Homo sapiens: one gene and its partner. The protein of the gene in region 1 interacts with the protein of each later gene in a pairwise test. Each region holds a gene or a part of one and is shown in the gene's direction. Other genes may lie near its edges.

What was found.
Region 2: the proteins of C2CD3 (region 1) and OFD1 interact in binary tests that used the Homo sapiens proteins (3 or more experiments, as listed by UniProt).

Annotation. Positions count from the first base shown.
Region 1 is NC_000011.10:74,011,786-74,023,675, reverse strand, and holds the end of C2CD3 (C2 domain-containing protein 3), read left to right. Parts: intron 1-10,150; coding exon 10,151-10,291; 3' UTR 10,292-10,958; downstream 10,959-11,890. UniProt on the Homo sapiens protein: Component of the centrioles that acts as a positive regulator of centriole elongation.
Region 2 is NC_000023.11:13,751,236-13,759,847, forward strand, and holds part of OFD1 (centriole and centriolar satellite protein OFD1), read left to right. Parts: intron 1-13; coding exon 14-133; intron 134-1,468; exon of another isoform or gene 1,469-1,482; coding exon of another isoform or gene 1,483-1,595; intron 1,596-2,132; coding exon 2,133-2,206; intron 2,207-3,915; coding exon 3,916-4,007; intron 4,008-5,342; coding exon 5,343-5,532; intron 5,533-6,424; coding exon 6,425-6,555; intron 6,556-7,101; coding exon 7,102-7,213; intron 7,214-8,612. UniProt on the Homo sapiens protein: Component of the centrioles controlling mother and daughter centrioles length. Recruits to the centriole IFT88 and centriole distal appendage-specific proteins including CEP164. Involved in the biogenesis of the cilium, a centriole-associated function.

The DNA of each region.
Region 1 (11,890 bases):
GGGAGAGAAAAAGGAGAGGGGGAAAAGAAAGGGTGTGGGATTTAGAGCACACATGGAGGTATTGGCCTTTTGAGAGGAAAAAGAAAACTCACCCAATATCATGAAGGAAGGCAGAGAAGATGGGTGCTAAAGCAGACAGGATTAGAGATTGGTGGTAGGGTTTCAAGTTGATGGAAGTTCCTGTTTTCTCAGTGATGCTTCAGGCACAGTCAGCAGCTCTAAGTGAGAGGGAGTGAGGCAAGGGCAGGAGCCCTGTCCTGTATCCACATTTGAGAATTCCACCTCTTCTGCCTCCTCCTAAGGCCAGCCTTGGCCCTCACAACTGAAGAGGAGCACTTTGAGAGGCTGCAGGGCTCTTCTCAACCACTGTCCTAGGACTGCTATACTAAAGCTGATCTGCTTCCGGGTCAGGGCTAACAGCCCATCCCTGAAACAGGAGAGGGCTCGTAATTGCTGGATTGATTGCCCTGGTTTCCCCACATGATCGAAGACAAGACCTGATCTTTCACTCCACACTGAAATGATATACCTGAGCCAAGGAACCTCCCAGTCTCCACTGGAAGCATCTGTGAAACAGATTTCCCCTCCCTCCTCCCACAGTAGAGTGGATACAGGAGCCTGTATGACATTCGTCAGATCTTTGGACTTTTCTGAGTCTGCTTTCTCATCTGTCAAATGGGGTTATCAGGCCTCACAGGGTGGTTGTACTGTAGAATAACGAGTGCCACACAGGTAGAGTATAGGGGCCAGCCCATAATTCCCACCCCATGCTACTTCAACTTCTGGCTGTCGCCTCTGCAAAAAGAAAAGGGGTGAGAACGATGGCTGGTTTAGCAGGACTGCAGCACAGCGATCCATTTGCAGTTCCAAATTCATTATAAATCAATCAAGTTCCGCTGCCCCTGCTTTCTCTTCCCTCTTGTGATGAAGTAACTCTTTACTGGGACAGCTTCCTGATTTTGTTAAAAGTTTTTTGTGATTCTGCTTGCTCAGCTGCTGATGGACAAACTAGTTTTATCAACTTCCATACAGGGGAGGAGAGAGGTTGACGATGAGAACGGCAGTAATTTGCTTTACATGTTGTCTTCCTCAGACTGTGTCTTCTGCTCTGTAGATTTTCACTCTTGGGAATATCTCAATCACTCTGATGACTTCAAATATGACTTTGAATGACTCTCAAATCCTTATCTTCAGTCTAGTCTTCTCTCTCATGCCGCAGACACGTACGGACCCACCTGCATCCTAGACGTCTTGTCCGATGTGTCACAAACAATTCACTCTGTCCAAAACTTGAGCTTGTCATCTTCCTTTGCATACTTCCTCTGCCACCTGCATCCATATCTCAGGAAATTCAGCCACCATCCATGTAGTTACTCCTGCCAGAAGCACAAGTATCTCTCACCCCTGCTCCTTTATCCCCCATGACCCACAGCCAAGATCCACATCACCAAGGCCTGTTAATTCTGCCACCTAAGCATCTTTTGAATCACTTACTTCTCACCCTGCCCTGTCTAGCCCAATCATCTCCCCACTATTTCTTTTTTTTTTCCCCGAGACGGAATCTCACTCTTGCCCAGGTCGGAGTGTGGTGGTGCGATCTCAGCTCACTGCAACCTCTGCCTCCCGAGTGCAAGCAATTCTCCTGCCTCAGCCTCCCCAGTAGCTGGGATTATAGGCGCGTGCCATCACGCCCAGCTAATTTTTGTATTTTTAGTAGAGATGGGGTTTCACCATGTTGGCCAGGCTGGTCTCGAACTCCTGACCTCAAGTGATCTGCCCGCCTCAGCTTCCCAAAATGCTGTGATTACAAGCGTAAGCCACTGCGCCCAGCCCCCCCGACTATTTCTAACCAGTCTCACTTATACTTGCACTTTTCCACCACCATTTATTCTCCACACTGTAGCCAGTGTAATATCACACTCTAATCAGATCTTACCTCACTTTACCACTGGCAGGGGGAACACTCTTTAAGCCTGTCAAAACCCCAAAAAACTTCCATATTCCTAAGTCAATTATCAAATCTCAGTGCCTGATTGCATGTGACACAGTTGATCTCTCTCCTTTGAACACTTTCTTCACTTATTTCTAAGGCATCACTTCTTCTTGGTTCTCCTCCCTCACTGGCTGCTCCCGCTCTGCCTTGTTTGCTGGGTCTCCCTCATTTCCCCTACTTCTTCTTCTATATGCTGAAGACTCCCGATGGTTAACTTGGCCCAGACCTAACTCTACAACTGTAACTCTACAACTGCCTACCCAGCATCTTCACTTGAATATCTAATAGATGTCTCAAATTTAACATGTCCAAAATTGAGCTCCAGATTTTATTCCCAAATCCATTTCCCCTTCAGTCTTCTCAATTTCGATTAAAGGGTACAGCTGAACTCTGGAGGGGGGTGGTGTTTTTTGTTTGTTTGTTTGTTTGTTTGTTTTTTGAGACAGGGTCTCCCTCTGTTGCCCAGACTGGAGTGCAGTGGCATGATCTCGGCTCACTGCAAACTCCTGGGCTCAAGTGATCTCCTGCCTCAGCCTCCTGAGTAGCTGGGACTCTAGTTGAGTTGTTCAGACCAAAACTCTTGGAATCCTCCCTGATGCCAGTTTTCAATTAAACAGGAAATTCTGGCAGCTCTATCTTTAAAATATACAGAAATGTGCTTCTCACCACCCTGGTCTCAACCATCATTATTTCTGGCCTAGATTATTGCAGTAACCTCCTAACTTGCCTTTCTGCTGCTTCCCTTGCTCCTCACAACCCATTCCCCATACAGCATCCTGTTAACTTTTTAAGACGTTAAATCAGTCATCAACTCAATCATGTGACTTCTCTGCTCAGAACCTTCCAATAACTTCCCGTCATTGAATAGGAGAACTAGAGCTGGGCCTGAGGATAGGCAGGCCAGAAAGTAGGAAGATAGTTTTGACCTCAGACTTGAAATTTGCATCTTTTAACAAATGTGCAAAGCCACAGTCCTGAGCTAGGTGCAGAAGACAGGAGCTTCCCTCGGGGAACTCACAGTTCCCTGGGGAGCCAGCCTTATATCTAAGTTCCTCCAACTCCTGCCAACTGCCTGTCATGCTGAAAGAGCTAGGACCCTCATGCTGTGGACCCTGCCTTTAGGGAGCTCGCAGTTCTTGGAAACGCACTGGACTCCAAACCACTCATTTCCTCAAATGACATTTGCCTATATTAGCACTGAAGTAAAGCAAAGGGAATGAGTATAGGAAAAGAAAGACAGAGCCATGTGGGGTGGCTTAAGTTGAATTCAACAAAGATAAAGGAAAGGCTTTTCATGCTGTGGATTTGAAAAGAAGAAACCTTAGAATCAACAGAAGTTGGACAGCAGAAGGTACAAGCACTGTGTGCTAGAGACATGGTCAGAAATGGGAAGAGATGGGCCTGGACTGAAACAAGATAGGAATTAGAAGCAAAGGACAAGAAGCAGCCTGTCTTCTGAGCCTTGGCCTCCCTGCCCTGTCCACATGGCACTTCTTTACCATGAGGTGAGCCTTGTCTTGCTCTGTGCCTTCCTGTGTTAAGCCCACGCTCTGCCCACATCATGAATGGGCCCCTGGATTAACCACAGGCATCGGGCCAGACACTGTTATTCATAAGGAGTGAGTGTAGGAGGCAGAAAGTATGAGACAAGGCCAGGCATGAGGGTACCCTTAAAACCTTGAGTTTTCCACCCACTCCCACCCGATGTTCTCACTTGTACTCAGCCAGACCACAGCACTTCAGACATCACTAAGGATCGAGGTGCCAGCAAGCCTGATTTTTTTGTCCTGTCTCTGCTTATGACTTTCTGAGGTCCTCAGCAACATGTCTAAACCAAGGGATAGAATTTTTCTATCCTGGCACCTCTAATCCCAGCTACTTGGGAGGCTGAGGCATGAGAATCACTTGAACCTGGGAGGCAGAGGTTGCAGTGAGTCAAGATGGTGCCACTGCACTTCAGCCTGGGCGACAGAGTGAAACTGTGTCTGAAAAAAAAAAATCTATCCTTTGGTTTCCTTTCCACAAACCAGAAGCAGCTGAAAGATAAATAGTCCTGGTAGAGAATCCCAGCTCTCCACAAAGCCACCAGATCAGATCAGTAGGGGGCCTGAGGGAACTTACTGATCCTGGGTTTCTTCTCAGCCTGTGGTCCAGGCCTGACGGCTGAGCTGCCCCTCTTGGGGCAAGAGGTCCTGACCTATTGCCTCATTTCATTAAACCACCAAGTCCCTAGCTTTCTGCAGAGCCTAAGAGAGACCTAAAGGTCAAAGTATCTCTGATAAAGGCCATACAGAGCTTTTAGAAGATAAGCAACTTGGCCACGGGTGTATAGAGGTCAGGAGAAACAGCCAAAATTGGCTGGCGCCACCCTGGCCCAGACTGCAAGTTGGCAGACACTTTTTAGGAAGGGGCTCATAGGTCTGCTGGGCAGGTGCTAGTCTCAGGTTGCCTGAGCCACTCTGAGGCCAGAGTCCAGGAGGAGCCAGGAGCTCTTCTTGTAAGAGTATAACTTTTAACCCTTCCCTCTCAAAACCTGGACTTTGGAGCCCTCTCTCTGGCAGAGCTTGGGTTCAGAAGATTGAGGATCATCTTTTGAACCAGGCCCTGTTTAAAAAAACAAACAAAAAAAAGGGTTGAGGAGTCTTGCCCTAGTCAGGCCCCTTCGTAGCATAGACTAAGGCCCAGGGTGAGGGAGTGACGTAGGCCCTGTAGAATGGGCCTGTCCGGGAAGGCTTCTTGGAGTAAGGAGAGGGTGGCATCAGGTGGGGTGTGGCACGGAGGGAGCATATCGGTAATAAGAACCACATGACCAGACCTCTAATTTAGGCATGGAGGGTGAGCTCAGAGCATGAGACCAGAGCCATGCGGCAGCCGGGCTGAGCAGGTCAGATTTGGGATTTGCCTCTCAGGGCTGGGCCTCTAGTCTAAGTGCCTTGTCCTCACTTCCCCTCTGCTCCTACTTGTGGCTGCTGAGTTTGCTGCTCTCTGTAGTATCAAGGAAGTTCTAGTCCAGGCCAGACTCTGAGAGCCACCCCAGGGAAAGGCAGCCAGCCAAAGGGGTGAAAGTTGAGCAAGGCAGGCAGCTATATTGAGCCCTCACTCGGCCTCTGATGCAGCAATCCATTGGCAGGTCCACCTAGCCAGCCAGACCCAGGCGGCTGTTTACTTTCAGTTTTCAGCTCCTGAGTCAATGTTTATGTCACTTAAAGGGGCTACTGTGGAAAAGAACAGAACTTTAGCCCTCATCCCAGACCAGAGGCTCACTGTTACCAAAGAAGGGGGGAAGACAGTGGGGCGGGGAGAACTTGCCTGGTCTAGCACTGCTTACCTCAGTACAGGAGATCCTGTACCCCAGCTCTACTCAGGACTTTTGGGGCCTGACCCTTTGCCAGGGATGGGGTCTGAGAACAGCAAGGCTTCATTTTGCTCTTGGGTCTGCAGCTGGTATTGGCTCTAGCTCCATCTTAGCCTCTGTGTTTTGTAAGATATTATACCTGGTCAGAACCTCGGCCATATCTGAATTTTATTTGAACCCAGCATAGACCTGGATAAGAAGACCAAACAGAAGTTCTTAGATCCACTTGACAGTGAAGCTAAGACCCAGAGAGACCCAGAGTGAGAAAGCATCTTGGTCTTGAGTGAGTGAGACAGTTAGGTTGGGCCACAGACCAGTGTCCCTTCCACTGCACTCCATTGCCTGTCCTCTGAGAAAGTCCCTCAGATACTTGGAAGCAGGGGTAAGTGGGGGCACCTGTACCCACCAACCCCTGGGAGCATGTGGCCTGTTCGAGGAATCCATCTGGGGGCTGGAGTGAAGAGAACCTAGAACACAGTGGCTGGGATCAGATCATGTTCCAGGCCAAAGAAGAGGGCCAGGCCCTCCTGAGAGAGCTTTTGGAGAAGAGTCTGCATCACAGGGAGCAGACCAGAGAAGGAGCCAAGGGCCGGGATAAGCCCGTGGTTTATAGAGTGCCTCCTCTTGCATTATCTGCTCATCCTGATCCCATTCAGATGCACAAACCAAGGCCCAAAGAGAAGGTGGGTTGCCCAACACCGCTTGGCTAAGAAGTGGTAGAGCCAGGACTAGAACCAGCTCCTTATGCAGGGTTAGCCACTCAATTTGAAGAGCCTCAGGAAGCCCCACATTTTCTTTCCAAACCACTCCTTACACCTTCCACGTGCTCCATTTTCTCCCCAGCAAAGTCTGATCTTTAGCATTGAAGGCTCTTTTAAGACACATCTATTATCAGAGAGGCCTATCATGTTCATGACCTGGGTGTCCAGGTACTCAGAAAGGAACAGGTCCCATGTATGGATGAGGTAGGATTTAATGGGGCAGCCTGAAAGCCCCTGGCCTACTGCCGTGCTTGACACCCGGTCCACAGGAAAGCCAGTTCTGTCCTTCAGCCTAGTACAGTCGTCAAATACCCCATCCCTGTTCCCTGGGAAGGCCCTTACAGATCAGCTCGCTGAAGTCCAAGAAGAATAAGATCAAATTCCCCCCAGACATTCTGGAACTTCCTCAACCAGCATCAACCCCTCTTCTAGTAATAGGTTTGTCTTGGCTGTTCTCCATACCTGCAGCTCAGCCTATCCACCCCCACCACTTTCCTAGCAAAGAAAATTCCTTCCTCACAAAACCTGCACCTCCACGTGGCATACCCTCTCTCTTCATTGTCTGTTCACATTCCACCTTCATGTTTAAGTTCCCGCTCCAGGGACTTCACCCCATGGATGACACCCGCTGTCTAGACTCCAAGGCACCTGCAGCCCCTCCAGCTACGACGATCCTGCTTCCATGTGTGTTCCTCCTGCCTCCCCAGGAAGGTTGATGCCTCCCACAAAGCCCATGTTCTGCTGACAACTTTCTTGTGCCCTCAGGTCTACAGCCAGAAGTGTAGGAGTATTTCAGAGGAATGGATGATACATTTGAGGGTATCCCTGCTCTGGCCAATTTCGCCTCTGGCCAACCCCACCAGGGTTGTGTGTTAGGGTAGCAGTCCTGATGAAGGAAGAATCTTCACTACTAGTCAAGATGGTTTCTAAACCCTATTGAGGTCAACAAAAGCAAAATGCTGCTGAGTGTGAGTTCTCTGTCCTTCCACACCCCGCCCCTGCCCTGTACACAGAGCCAAGCCCTGTCCTTGTCCTTGTTCTGATTCCTGGGCCTGGGCCTTGCAGATAAGGCCCCCTAGGTCATTGGGTTAGGGTATCAGTGCTGGAAGGTTGGTGCCACACACGATTCAGCTCCAGGGCAGATATGGCCCAGCCAGTAGGTGTAGGTCTGTGCTCATGCTGTTCCCTCTAATGAAAGACCTCACCTGACAGCCAGCTTCTGTTGAGACCTTGCCCATCTTGGAGCCCACCTCCTGTGAAGCCGCCCCAGACTTTCTCAGCTGTTACTAATTGCTATTTTCTCAGTGCTCACAAGCTCTAAGCTTCATCTCTGTGATTGTTGGGTAGCTCATTGTCTGTCTTCTCTCTAGCTGAGCAGCCCTATGACAACAGGAACCACGTCTGCCTGTTGTCCATAAGAGTTGATCAAGTTGATTAGATCTTAGGCTCCTGAAAAGTTTGATGAGTCACCAACAGAGGTGTTTTGTTTTGAGACAGGGTCTTCCTCTGTCACCCAGGTTGGAGTGCAGTAGCATGATCATGGCTTACTGCAGCCTTGAATTCTTGGGCTCAAGCGATCCTCCCACCACAGCCTCCTGAGTAGCTGGGACCACAGGTGTGCACCACTACACCCTGCTAATTTTTTTTTTCCTTTTTTTTTTTTTTTGAGACAGGGTTTCCCTATGTTGACCAAGCTGGTCACAAACTCCTAGACTCATGCGATCCCCCTGCCTTGGCCTCCCAAAGTGCTGGGGTTACAGACGTGAGCTACCCAGCCCAACAGAGGTCTTTTTATGGTCATTTCATGAACTGAGGTAGTTGGCCCTTCCAGCCATGGAGAACAAGACTCATCTAAGTCTCTCTAAAACAGAGAAGACATCTCTTCTAGAAAATGGGGAAACAAATGCCTGGTTTTAGGATTTGAGATAGAATACTATGCTCTAAGGCCTGTTTTCCCATCTGGCTCATAAAACAAACATCTCCCTACTTCCCCTTCAGAGTAGCAGAGAAAGAAATGGAAGGTAAGATACAACTGATGACCCAGAAAATCTACCTGCAGTACAGCTGGGGGTCAGGAATGGGACTTGTGTCATCCTAAATCCCAAATAGCTCAGGAAACAGCCATCTTGGATCTTGGGAGTAGAGAAAGATATACACAAGCTTAAAGTGCTACATAGAGCCTGAGAGAGTTTAACTTAACTAAAGACCTGGCATATGGTAGGACAACAACCACTGGTTCTAGAATGAATGAATGAGAAGCTTACTACAAAGAGTCTCCTCCCCACCCAATTTAAACCTGTGGTTACCCTGGCCTGGTCCCACCCACACTGGTCTAGCAGCTCCCAGGCTCCTGTCTTGGAACTGGCCTCGCTGGGATCCCAAGCCTCAGACCCAGGCCGTGCCCTGCAGGAGCACCCAGTGTGGAAGTGGGAGAGCAACAGGCAGAGGCTGGCCACTGGCCTCCCCTGGTCTGAGGCATCATGCAGTGCAGGTGCTTCCTGTATTTTGGAAGGAAGAACTGCAAACACCAGCAAAAAGTGGGTTTCCTTCTTCCCTTCTAGCCTAGACCTGCCTAGAAGGCAGGGAGATAGATCTTCTAGTCTCTGCTGTGCAGCCCAGCCCTAGTATCACTTTGCTCTTGGTTATAAGGAAAGGCTGCCTGTGGGCTCATAGCACTGAGAGCTTCCCAGATTGTAGACATTCCCTTGGCACTTAGAATTCTAGACTGGCAGGGACCCTCAAGGTTTCCCATCCACACTTCTATTTCATGGGTGGGAAACTGACATCCAGGCAGTAGATCAGGGATGCCTGACTCCACTCCCCTTATCTCATTCTGGCAATTCTAATTCTTTAGGCAGATCTCTCTGCCTCCAGGGCTTAACTCTGAGCTGAGAAAGCCTAAAACGGAGTTCTGTTTATTTCTGCGCCCCTCTCAAGTAGGTATTAAAAAAGATTGAAGACATGAAAGAAAGAATAACTGAATGTTACTGATGCCAGAAGCAACTCTCGCTGGGCGCAACTCTCGCTGGGCGCAACTCTCGCTGGGCCTCAGTTTCTCATGAGCAGAACTGCAGGGGGTAGGTGGTCCCAGTCTCTAGGGTCTCCACCAAGCTTCTTCTCAGTGCCCAGGAAGTGGTACAGTGTGCTCTCAATAGTCCTTCAGCTTATGACAGCCTCAGCTCATGGGACTTGATGACAGGGAAGAGCAAGCTGCATGCCATGAAGTCAGCCAGGTTTGCCTGTGGAGGCTGCTCCCATCTCCTTTCAGAACTGCCCCCTCCCCTATCAGGCCCCCACTTCTTCCCCAGGGCCTTGCTCTCAGCCAGCTGTCTGGGATGGCTTTCCTGTATAGCTTTGAGCTCCTTCAGCACAGGAGCCTGACATGGAGTAAGAAAAAAGAAAGAAAAATGAGTTAGAGGAGTCCAGAGGACCATGATACCATAGCCCACAGGTTTAAGTACCTTAAAGGCGGAATTAGTGATGCCCTGTCAGCCAGAGTCAGAGAGATCAAAGTTTGGTAGCCAAGCAGTAGGTAGGTGCTTTATGTCACCTGGCAACTCCAGGAGCTCCAAAGGGCCAAACAGAGAGTGTATTATTCACCGCCATCTCCCTGAGAGTTGGATATGTTCCCAGCATCACACATGGGACTAAACCCAGAGGACAAATGACTTGTCTAAAGCCATGCAACAGGAGAAGGGATGAGGATTCAAACCTATCCTGGAGGTGACGCTGCCTCCTTCTCCAGAGGCACAGAAAGAGTCAGGGCTGGGGTTCACGTCCCAGCTCTGCTACTCAGAGCTGTGGGACCTTGAGTTTATTCCACCTGAATGTAGTTTCCTTATCCACGACATGGGGAGAATGATATACCCCCCATATGGGGTTGAGGTAAGGGTCAAGCAAGATAAGGTACGTAAAGCGCTTTGTAAACCAGGCAGCTCTACATAAATATTAACCAAAGGACCAAAAGATGAGAGAAACCAGCGTCATCCATTGGTGGTGCCATATCCTCAGTGGTAACCTAGCTGACTTCTTCCTCTCCAGGACAAGAGCGAAGCCACCAGGGGAGCTCTCTCCCAAAGGCCTTGTCGCCCCAGACCTAACTCGCTCCCCCTCAACCTGCCTGAGGAAGAAACTCTCAGGATTGCACGGATATTTTCTTCTCAGTACTCCCAGAAAGACTGACGCAGCCTGAGGGGCTGGGGGGAAGGAGACACCTGCCCACCCTCCGTCAGCTTTGTCCAGCTTGCAGGAGGCACCAGGTCTGGCTCCTTCAGGGCTGTCACAGTCCTGAAACCACCACTTGCCTAGGCCACGGATGCCTCAAGAGACCCGGTCAGCCCAGACTGGAGGAGTGCCCCAAACCAGTCCAGTGTCCACTTGCCAGAATTTCAGCTCCTTTTTTCTGTGGTGAGGCAAAGGCTAGAAATAAAATGGAATCCGCGCCCAAGTGGGACCCAAGCAGGCATCTTTCGGTGGAGAAACGCCCCCCAGTGTCCTTGACACAGCTGACTGCTGGCATGAGCCCACCCTCTGCCTGAAGATGCAGGACCATTTTTGCCTTAAAAGTTGGGGAGGAGGGACATGTAGATTGTGTGCATTGTGCATAGTCAAGGAAATCCTAGGGCCACCTCCAGTTCATTTGTGTGGGAACAAGGATATTTTATAGATACAAATTATTTTTATGCTGTGTTGAATTAATCAATTAGGAGAGGAAGGGGAAATCACTTCCTTCAAACTTTTTATCTGATTGTCTAAAATTCTAACCATGCTTTTAACTTATTATTTTTACCCAGCTCTGAAGGTCATTGTTCTTGCCTGTGTTTGAATAAAATCATATTGGTGTTTGTAATCTGTGCACAAGTGTTTCGCTGGAGTGGGGATGCTAGGAATTCGTGTGTGCCCTAACTGCCAGAGAGAAAGATTAACAACCATACACCCCACGCAGACGAAGATCAATCACCATGAGACTTCTGGCTCCTCCAGAATCAGGTTGGTCCAGATGACAGTGACACCCAGTATTTCCTTTGCTGATGCTTGAAATCCATCAGACAAAGCCCCGTGGGGAGGACAAGAAAAGGGCCATGGATGGGTGCAGTGGCTCACACCTGTAATCCAAACACTTTGGGAAGCCGAGGCAGGCAGATCACCTGAGGTCAGGAGTTTGAGACTACCCTGGCCAACCTGGCAAAACCCCGTCTCTACTAAAAAAAAAAAAAATACAAAAATTAGCTGGGCGTGGTGCACGCCTGTAGTCCTAGCTACTCAGGAGGCTGAGGCAGGAGAATCACTTGAACCCAAGAGGTGGAGGTTGCAGTGAACCGAGACCACGCCACTGCACTCCAGCCTGGACAACAGAGCAAGACTCCGTATCACAAAAAAAAAAAAAAAAAATGGGGTCGCGGGAGCCAAATGTGCAGAGTGAGCAGTGTGGCTGGGCAACAGGCTTTCACCCCCAAGTACATGTCACTTCACTCAGTCCTCAAAACAGCTCTCTAACTCTAGATATTATGATATCTAGAGTTTCTGTAAGTTCAGTGTTTTGCCTCTGTTTGTGTAGTTAGGAAGTGATTAACCACACAAGAAATCCCAGAGGTATTGCAAGGCTACTGCTTTCAGTAATCAAAACAAGGTACAGCCAATAAGTGCTCTGAATTTAGGGACTTCATGGAGAAAGACCATGTGGGCTGGGGCAGTCAGGGAAGGCTTCCTAGAAGAGACAGGTCTTGGGGTGAGCACAGAGAATTGGCCCAGGCTGTGGACAGCTATAGAGAGAGAGCCAGG
Region 2 (8,612 bases), on another chromosome or scaffold:
TTGTTAATTTCAGGAACCAGAAGCTCCAGGAAGAAAAACATAAAAGCATAACTGAGGCACTTAGGAGACAGGAGCAGAATATAAAGAGTTTTGAGGAGACCTATGACCGAAAGCTCAAGAATGAACTTCTAAAGTAATTGTTTAGCATTTTTAAATAACTAATATGTTTAAATTAAATTGGTAGAAACATAACAAAAACTGACAAAGTAGTCTGTAACTTAGGCAAACTTTAGTGTTTGAAAAAAAAAAAACATAGTTTTATCGATACAGTCAATCCTTTCCTGCATTTGAGTTAGGATAGTTTTTAAAAGATAAGGGCCGGGTGTGGTGGCTCATGCCTATAATCCCAGCACTCTGGGAGGCTGAGGTGGGCGGATCACCTGAGGTCAGGAGTGCAAGACCAGCCTAGCCAACATGGTGAAACCCCATCTCTACTAAAAATACAAAAATTAGCTGGGTGTGGTGGTGGGCACTTGTAATCCCAGCTACTGGGGAGGCTGAGGCAGGAGAATCACTTGAACCCGGGAGGCAGACGTTGCAGTGAACTGAAGTTGTGCTACTGCACTCTACTAGCCTGCGTGACAGTGACAATCCATCTCAAAAATTAACAACAATAAAAAAATACAGAGAAGCACATCCTCTGCGCTTCTTATGGCTTCTCTAACGTTTATTGTGGGCTGTGATTTGCTTTAATTTTCAGGACACCTTGTGACTTGCTTAGCTTGCATAGTTGATAAGCTGTAAAATTGGAATTATAACCACTTTTAGTTATCTTTTCCTCTACCTCACTCATACAGTCAGAAGGATGGGGTTATCTGACAATATATAAATTATACTAGTGGTCATAGTATTTGTCAGTGAACATGTGCCTTGTATTCCTTCAAGATTCAGCAAAGCCAGAATCAAAAGAGCTAAAATTAACTATGTGAGGCAAAAAGTGATATAGGGAAAGGAAAATATGGACAACTATGGTAACTTTGGCTTTTCTGTAGTCTGAGTTTTGTGTATCAGTGAATAATATCTCAGTGCTACGACATTATGCCCATGTGGTAACATTTCTCTTCAGTGTGTGGGAAAGCATCTGGCACATAAAAAGTGCTCAGTTAATATTTGTTGTAAATGTGTCACGAGGAAATGATTCAACTCAGGTGCTCTGGGCATTTCTTATTTGGCCTCTTTTATTGCCTTTCTCATAATTTGTCATCGATATTCCATTACATAATATTGCAAAGGTTTCTTGAGGTAATCCTTTAAACAAATCCTATTTTTAAAAAATATGGCAGCTTTTTTATCTATTGATTTTGAAATGATGTATTTTACCCACATCTTCTATGTCAGTTTCTATACTAAAATAGCTAAAATGGAAGTGTCTGTAGTTGCTGAATTTTTAGGAATAAATGAATTAAAGTATGTGTGTTAATTTTACATAGTTATGGAGCTAGTGAACTATTTGGTGTCATTGTGACAGCTTCCACAGGCTGCATGGTGTCTGCCTGGCTTTGGGAATCCTCATATGACTTTGGCAGGTGTTGGAGTTTGGAGGCTCTTCGCCACAGGAGTGCTTCTATTTCCTTTTGGAACCAAAAGGGCAGCTGGTAACAGCTGGGAAAGGGAAGTGAAACTGTGAAAATGTGCCTTTTGGTATTGCTAATCCGGATATAATGCTCTTGGCAGTTGGCTCTCAGGACTGTGCTTAGTCCCTGAGCACAAAAGTTCTTACCTTGGTTGGGGGTGGGCAGATGGTACAGGTGGATTGGAAGTGACCGTCTGATTATCATTTGGGATTGAGTCTGTTGTGTGCTGTGTAAATTTAATTTACCCCTTTGCTCTTTGTGTCAGTTGAGACCAACTGAAAAGTGATTGCTTTCAGTAAGTAACCTTATGATAACACGACGCTTCATTTTGTGTGATTGAGTTTTGGGACCCAGTTTATAGGATCAAGGAAGGGTTTTACTGGGCATTTTATGTTCAGGGGTTATATCCCTGGCTTTAGTATTGAGGACTTTGAAGTTTACAAGTTGTCATGTTTAGCACCCTCAGGTGCTCCTGTGCCATAGATAAGCTCCTGCACTGATAACAGTCTTTCCAGAAAAATGCCTGAGGAGCTCATATTTAGTCATTCTGATTCTCAGGTATCAACTTGAACTGAAGGATGACTACATCATTAGAACTAATCGACTGATTGAAGATGAAAGGAAGAATAAAGGTGATGTTTGGGGGGAAAATAAGCTGTATTTTTCAGTTCTGCTGTAGGTTATTAGCTTCCCAAGTTGGGTCTTTTCTATATTCTAAAAAATACAGCTTACACTTCATTGTTCATACAAAATTACACATTTTTTGTAATTTTAATTTTATAAATTAAAAATCATGGTCTTCACTGCCTTTTGAGGAACCTTCATGTTTAATAGTTTGTATATTCACAAAGGCCAGTGATTTATCATGGATATTTTATCCAACTTTATTTCATATATTTTGATAAATCTGCAATTGTCAGGAACGTAGCAGCAACTTATTGCTGTCAAGTACGTATTACTCCTAACCATGAGAGACTTTATTTTTCACTTACGGAAAACTTTTAACTTCTCTGTCCTCTGTGACCTAGTTTCTTATTTCTTTTGCTTCTAATATATTTTTATGCTTTATAATATTTTTACTTGATGTATAACCTTCTGAACTCTTGTGTACATTGGCCTGAGACTATGGAAGTTGAATAATTTTTCAATCTTCAGATGTTTTACATTTCAGTGTATTTTTTTTTTTTTTTGAGACGGAGTCTCGCTCTGTCACCTAGGCTGGAGTGCAGTGGTGCGATCTCGGCTCACTACAAGCTCCACCTCCCAGGTTCACGCCATTCTTCCACCTCAGCCTCCCCAGTAGCTGGGACTACAGGCACCCACCAACACGCCCGGCTAATTTTTTGTATTTTTAGTAGAGGCGGGGTCTCAGCGTGTTAGCCAGGATGATCTCGATCTCCTGACCTCGTGATCCGCCCGCCTCGGCCTCCCAAAGTGCTGGGATTACAGGCGTGAGCCACCACGCCCGACCCATTTCAATGTATTTCTAGGAAATTGCTGTAACAAGAAGTTGAAGTTTTGGTGGAAATTTCAAGTAGATTCCTGGGAGGAAACCAGGGTTAGATAGTTGATGTTGACCAGATACCCAATGTGTGGCTACTGTCTTTTTTTTTTTTTTTTTTTAAGAGACGGAGTCTTGCTCTGTTGCCCAGGCTGGAGTACAGTGGCACAATCTCAGCTCACTGCAACCTCTGCCTCCTGGGTTCAAGTGATTCTTGTGCCTCAGCCTCCCAAGTAGCTGGGACTACAGGTGTGCGCCACCATGCCTGGCTAATTTTTGTAGAGAGAGAGTTTCACCATGTTGGCCAGGCTGGTCTCGAACTCGTGACCTCAGGTGGTCCGCCTGACTTGGCCTCCCAAAGTGCTGGGATTACAGGCGTGAGCCACTGTGCCCAGCCCCTTTTACTATCTTGTGGAGACTAATACTTCTTTTATGCATTAATACCATTACGTATGTAACAAATTATGGTTTGATGATATATCTACATAGACTTGTGTTAGATGAAGTGAAAACTACAAAATAGTAACTACAATATAGTAACAGACAGATCTTTGTCTTCAAGGAAGTTAAGAGCTGTGGGTATTAGGGCCCTGTGCTTTGAGCACATGGTATAACTCTGGTTAGCATGTATAGCAAGTGGAATTTCACCACATATATGACAGTTACAGCTTCACATCACCTGTTGGGTAACAGGGTTTATTTCTTACTTGCCCGCTACATCTGCTATTTGGATTGTGAAATAGTGGTCATTAGGTCTGACATACTGGCCATAAATATTAAATGGCTTTTGTATTCACTAGGAAAACATTATGGTGTTTAATTGGTGGGCTCTTTTTTCAGAAAAAGCTGTTCATTTGCAAGAGGAGCTCATAGCTATTAATTCAAAAAAGGAGGAACTCAATCAATCTGTAAATCGTGTGAAAGAACTTGAGGTAATTGTTAAGCATGTTGGTTTTTGAAATAGATTTTAAGCAATATATGAAATTTTAGTCATACATAATTTATCCTAAGTCATCCTGTTGAGATGTTTGGACTGCCATTTATATGGCTAAGAAGGTGTTAGCTGAAGTTAATTCAATAGTTCTTAATTTCAGTCAGTGTCACATAGGAAAGTGTAGATAGAGCTTTGGGTCCTGGAGTCCTGCCCACATCCTGTCTGTGTCTCTAACTGCTTGTGTGTCGCTAGGTAAGTTCTGTGACTGCAGGTTCCTGAGCTGTAAACTAGGATGTTTTCCACATTATAGGGTTGTTGAGGGAATTCAGTAAGCTAACTTATGTGCCTAGTTCATAGCAGGTGGCCATTACTATTAGTTTCTACATCAGCCTGTTATCTCCTTCCATCAGCAGCAGGTAAACAAAATTCCTGTCATTACATTGTTATCTTACAGATTAAAACAAAATGAGGTACATTTTTCACATATCATTGCTTCTTTACTTTTCTGTTCATTCGTGTGCTTGCTGTCTGAAGGATGAAGCTGGAACTTTAGGTACTTACAACATATTTTGTATATGAAATTTATTTTAGCAACTGTGACTTATGTGAGAACTTTGTAGGCTTTTTACTCAAATATGAGATATACTAAGAAAAGGGAAGCACTTCACAACATTTTACAGAATCTTTTTTCCTTTCTTTCCCTTTTTTTTTTTTTTTTTTTTTTGAGACAGAGTCTTGTTCTTTCGCCCAGGCTGGAGTGCAGTGGTGTGATCTTGGCTCACTGCAACCAACCTCCACCTCCCGGGTTCAAGTGATTCTCATGTCTCAGCTCCCAAGTAGCTGGGATTTCAGCCATGTGCCACCACACCCAGCTAATTGTTGTATTTTTAGTAGAGATGGGGTTTCACCATGTTGCCCAGGGTGGTCTCGAACTCCTGAGCTCAAGCAATCCTCTTGCCTCAGCCTCCCAAAGTGCTGCGATTACGGGCGTGAGCCACCATGCTCAGCCATTTTTATCTTACCTTTCATATTTAAAAAATATATATTGCTATGATGTGTGATTATTGTTGGGTTCTTGGTTGCCTCTGGAAAATGGGATGATAATCTTAGAAGGACTTGCTTCATGGGATGCGGCCTATAAAAGTTCTGCCCCAACTGTAGGGCGGAAGATAATTTTCGTTATTGTAGTTAGAGTCTTATTGTAGAGAATCAGACTTCTGTCTAGTGACCTTAATTAAATTGTGACACCATGCTTAAAGGAGCCTGCCAGCTTTTACTTTTGCAGTACTGTAAAGTCATTATTCAAATGTAAATTTTCCTTTTTGAATTTTAGCTTGAATTAGAGTCTGTCAAAGCCCAGTCTTTGGCAATAACAAAACAAAACCATATGCTGAATGAAAAGGTTAAAGAGATGAGTGATTATTCACTACTAAAAGAAGAGAAACTGGAGCTTCTGGCACAAAATAAATTACTTAAACAACAACTGGAAGAGAGTAGAAATGAAAACCTGCGTCTCCTAAACCGTATGTATTTTTCTTTTCTTCTGACTTGCGTGTTTTAGTAATTCGCATTAGGTCAGTATTATAAAACTATGCTTTGTACTTGTATAAGGTAGGGGGCTTACATTGGGAAGATTTATAAAATTAAGATTCTTGGATTAAACTCTGCAAACCTGCCTATAGGTGGTATCAAAGCTTCCCTTGCCCTCTGACTGCTGATTGGGTTTGGCCAGTGGGGACACCAGCCTCTACATACAGTGGCCCTAGGCTGGCCACTGTGCCTCATGGCCAAGTGAGGCCATAGTGCCTGCGATTACCTCTTCCAAGTGCTCTGCACCACCACCCTGTCTCTAGTGCTGAGAATTTCTCCCTCCTCTGATTCCCCAGGCCCAAGGAGCGCTAACAGTATGGCCCTGTTACTAGCCCACCCAGGGAACTCCACCATCCTTTGTGCATACCCTGAATAAGTCAACCTTTATTAAAGGGTTCTTAGATGACCTTGACCGTGAGAGCCATCTGCCTTCTGCCTGGATCCCAACTGCTGCTGTCAGATGCCCAGATCATATTGGATCCCAGGGCTGTCATCAACAGGTAGACCAGATAGAGAGCTCCTTCTGTGCACAGTAGAGGAGAGAAACAGGCTTTCAGGTTAATTTGAGAATTTGAAAGAGTTCTTTTACTTGGAGTAGGACTCCAAGGGTAATAAAGTTTGCATTAACATGCACTAAATTCTTTTGTTGTGAAATTTGAGAGTCAGGATTGCTCTGAGCTCATTTAATAGAATTATTATCATATTTATTGAGTCAGTACAAAGCAAAGAACACTTTAAAACCCCTTTAACTGTTTTTGTTAAGTTAAATAAGAAAACTTAAGGTTGGTAATGACTAGGATTTTTTTTTTTTTTTTACCTTCTTAGGCCTAGCTCAGCCGGCTCCTGAACTTGCAGTCTTTCAGAAAGAACTACGGAAAGCCGAAAAGGCTATAGTGGTTGAGCATGAGGAGTTCGAAAGCTGCAGGCAAGCTCTGCACAAACAACTGCAAGACGAAGTGAGTATTGCTCTTCTTCAGTTCTAGTGTGATACCAGTACACTTCATAGTTACGTAAACTTGGCACAAGTCACACTAGTGTAAATCAGATTTATTTTAACATCAAACATTACTCCCCCAAATATGCTAAAGGTATCCTTTCTCATCTGAGAAAATTCTGCAGTGATAACGTGACTTTATATTCGTAATAGTAATAAAATGGAGAAGAAAGCAAACTCACCTAAACATAAAATTTTCTGAGTGCCTGATGGTGCCCACTGTTATCTCTCGATTCTCACCCTGATAAGTATTACAAACATTCACTGTCTTCTGATTTCTGCCTGCATGCCCTAGAGTTCTTTGATATGACTGAAAAAGATGGTGAAGAACTTGTTTGTGTGTTCTGCTTGTGTTTTTTTTTAATAGGGACCCTGTTGTTTACTGTCATAAAGCTTCTTGGAATTGGCAGAACAAAAAGAGTACAAACATGATAAGAGAACTTTTCCTTTTGAAGCAAGCTGTGATTTGTTTTACATTGATTTCTTTTCCTATTCTGAATCTTTTCAGATTGAGCATTCTGCACAGCTGAAGGCCCAGATTCTAGGTTACAAAGCTTCTGTAAAGAGTTTAACTACTCAGGTTGCCGATTTAAAATTGCAACTGAAGCAAACTCAGACAGGTTAGAGACGTTTTAACCCATAAATATTTTTGTATGTATAAAGCTTCTGGTGTCTGTGAAAATGTAATGATCATAATTTATTGAATATTAATTATTGTTTTAGGGGAAAAGCCATAGAAATATGTGTCATCTTAGAAGTAAAACTCCCTATCCATTTTGGTAATACCATCTGGATCATCAGCAAAAGTATTTTGCTTCATAGGTGCCTCATGGCTTGGGAGAGTCTCATGCCCCAATAGGAAAGGCGTGGTGGTAACATAGAAGTCCCCATATTCATTATAGGATTTCCTTTTTTATTTGTTACCCCAATGTTAACACCAATTCAGTAGTTTTACGGATTCCTTGATAGATATATAAATATACAGGACAAGCAGGGTGGTTTAGCAAAAAGAATATTGCCTTCAGAATCAGAACTGTTCTTCTTTTGGACCCGTTTTGAAGTTGTTTGACCTTGGGCATGTTACTTTAACTTCCTTGGGCCTCAGTCTCCTCATTTGTAATGGGGATAATAATACCTACTGAGCCATGATGAAAAAGATGAAATGGGTTTCAGTCCAGTGCCTGGGACATAAAAGACACTCAGGAAATGGTTATTGGTATCATTTTATTATTGTGTCTTCACTGTGGATGCATCTCTGCCCCTTCCTACTTCGTAAGAAGGATATTAAAGTTCAGATACTTTATTCTTCAGTTGCTTTCAAGTTCAAAGAAAGTACGTATGTGTTACCAGTTCAACTGGGTCTGAGCCTTCCTTGTTCCCACCTGCATTGTTTCCTCATCAGCTCCTTGCTCTCTTCTACCAGCACTTGTTTTATTTTTATCTCTACTCGTTTCTGCTTTTTTCTGTTCCTCATTTTCTTTCAGTTCTGTTTGTGAAACTTCTCACAGCTGAAATCATAGCAGTCTCCTATCAATAAAAAATAGTTGAATGAGGATAGAACTCTTTCGCATGCATGTGTTGCCGAGGGCAAGCTTCTTTCTTGTAGCATCACGGGGAGGCATTGCAGGAGAGAGGGGCAGGTGCACTGGCTTTGCATTAGGAAAGCCCAGTAGCTCTTAGACTTGCTAACCGTGTGACCCAGCCTCAGTAAGCTTTAGTCCCCCCATCTGTAAAATGGGAGCAGTGAGAGTTTCTTGACCACAGTGTTGTTGTGAATGCAGGTCCTCACTTCCTTATATGAAACTCGGGCCATATGCTGTGGATTTCGCAATAGCCCTGGGAGTTCTGAACAGCATCCTATAGTAAAGCACATTAATTATTTTGCAGTCAACTGTATGAATATTCATGCTGGGATAAATAAAGATTATAAATGGGTTTACATCAGTTCAGGTCAAACTTTTCAACCAAATGAGTTCAAGTCTGGTTGGGCTTTGCCACCAAATAAATTATGAATAAATT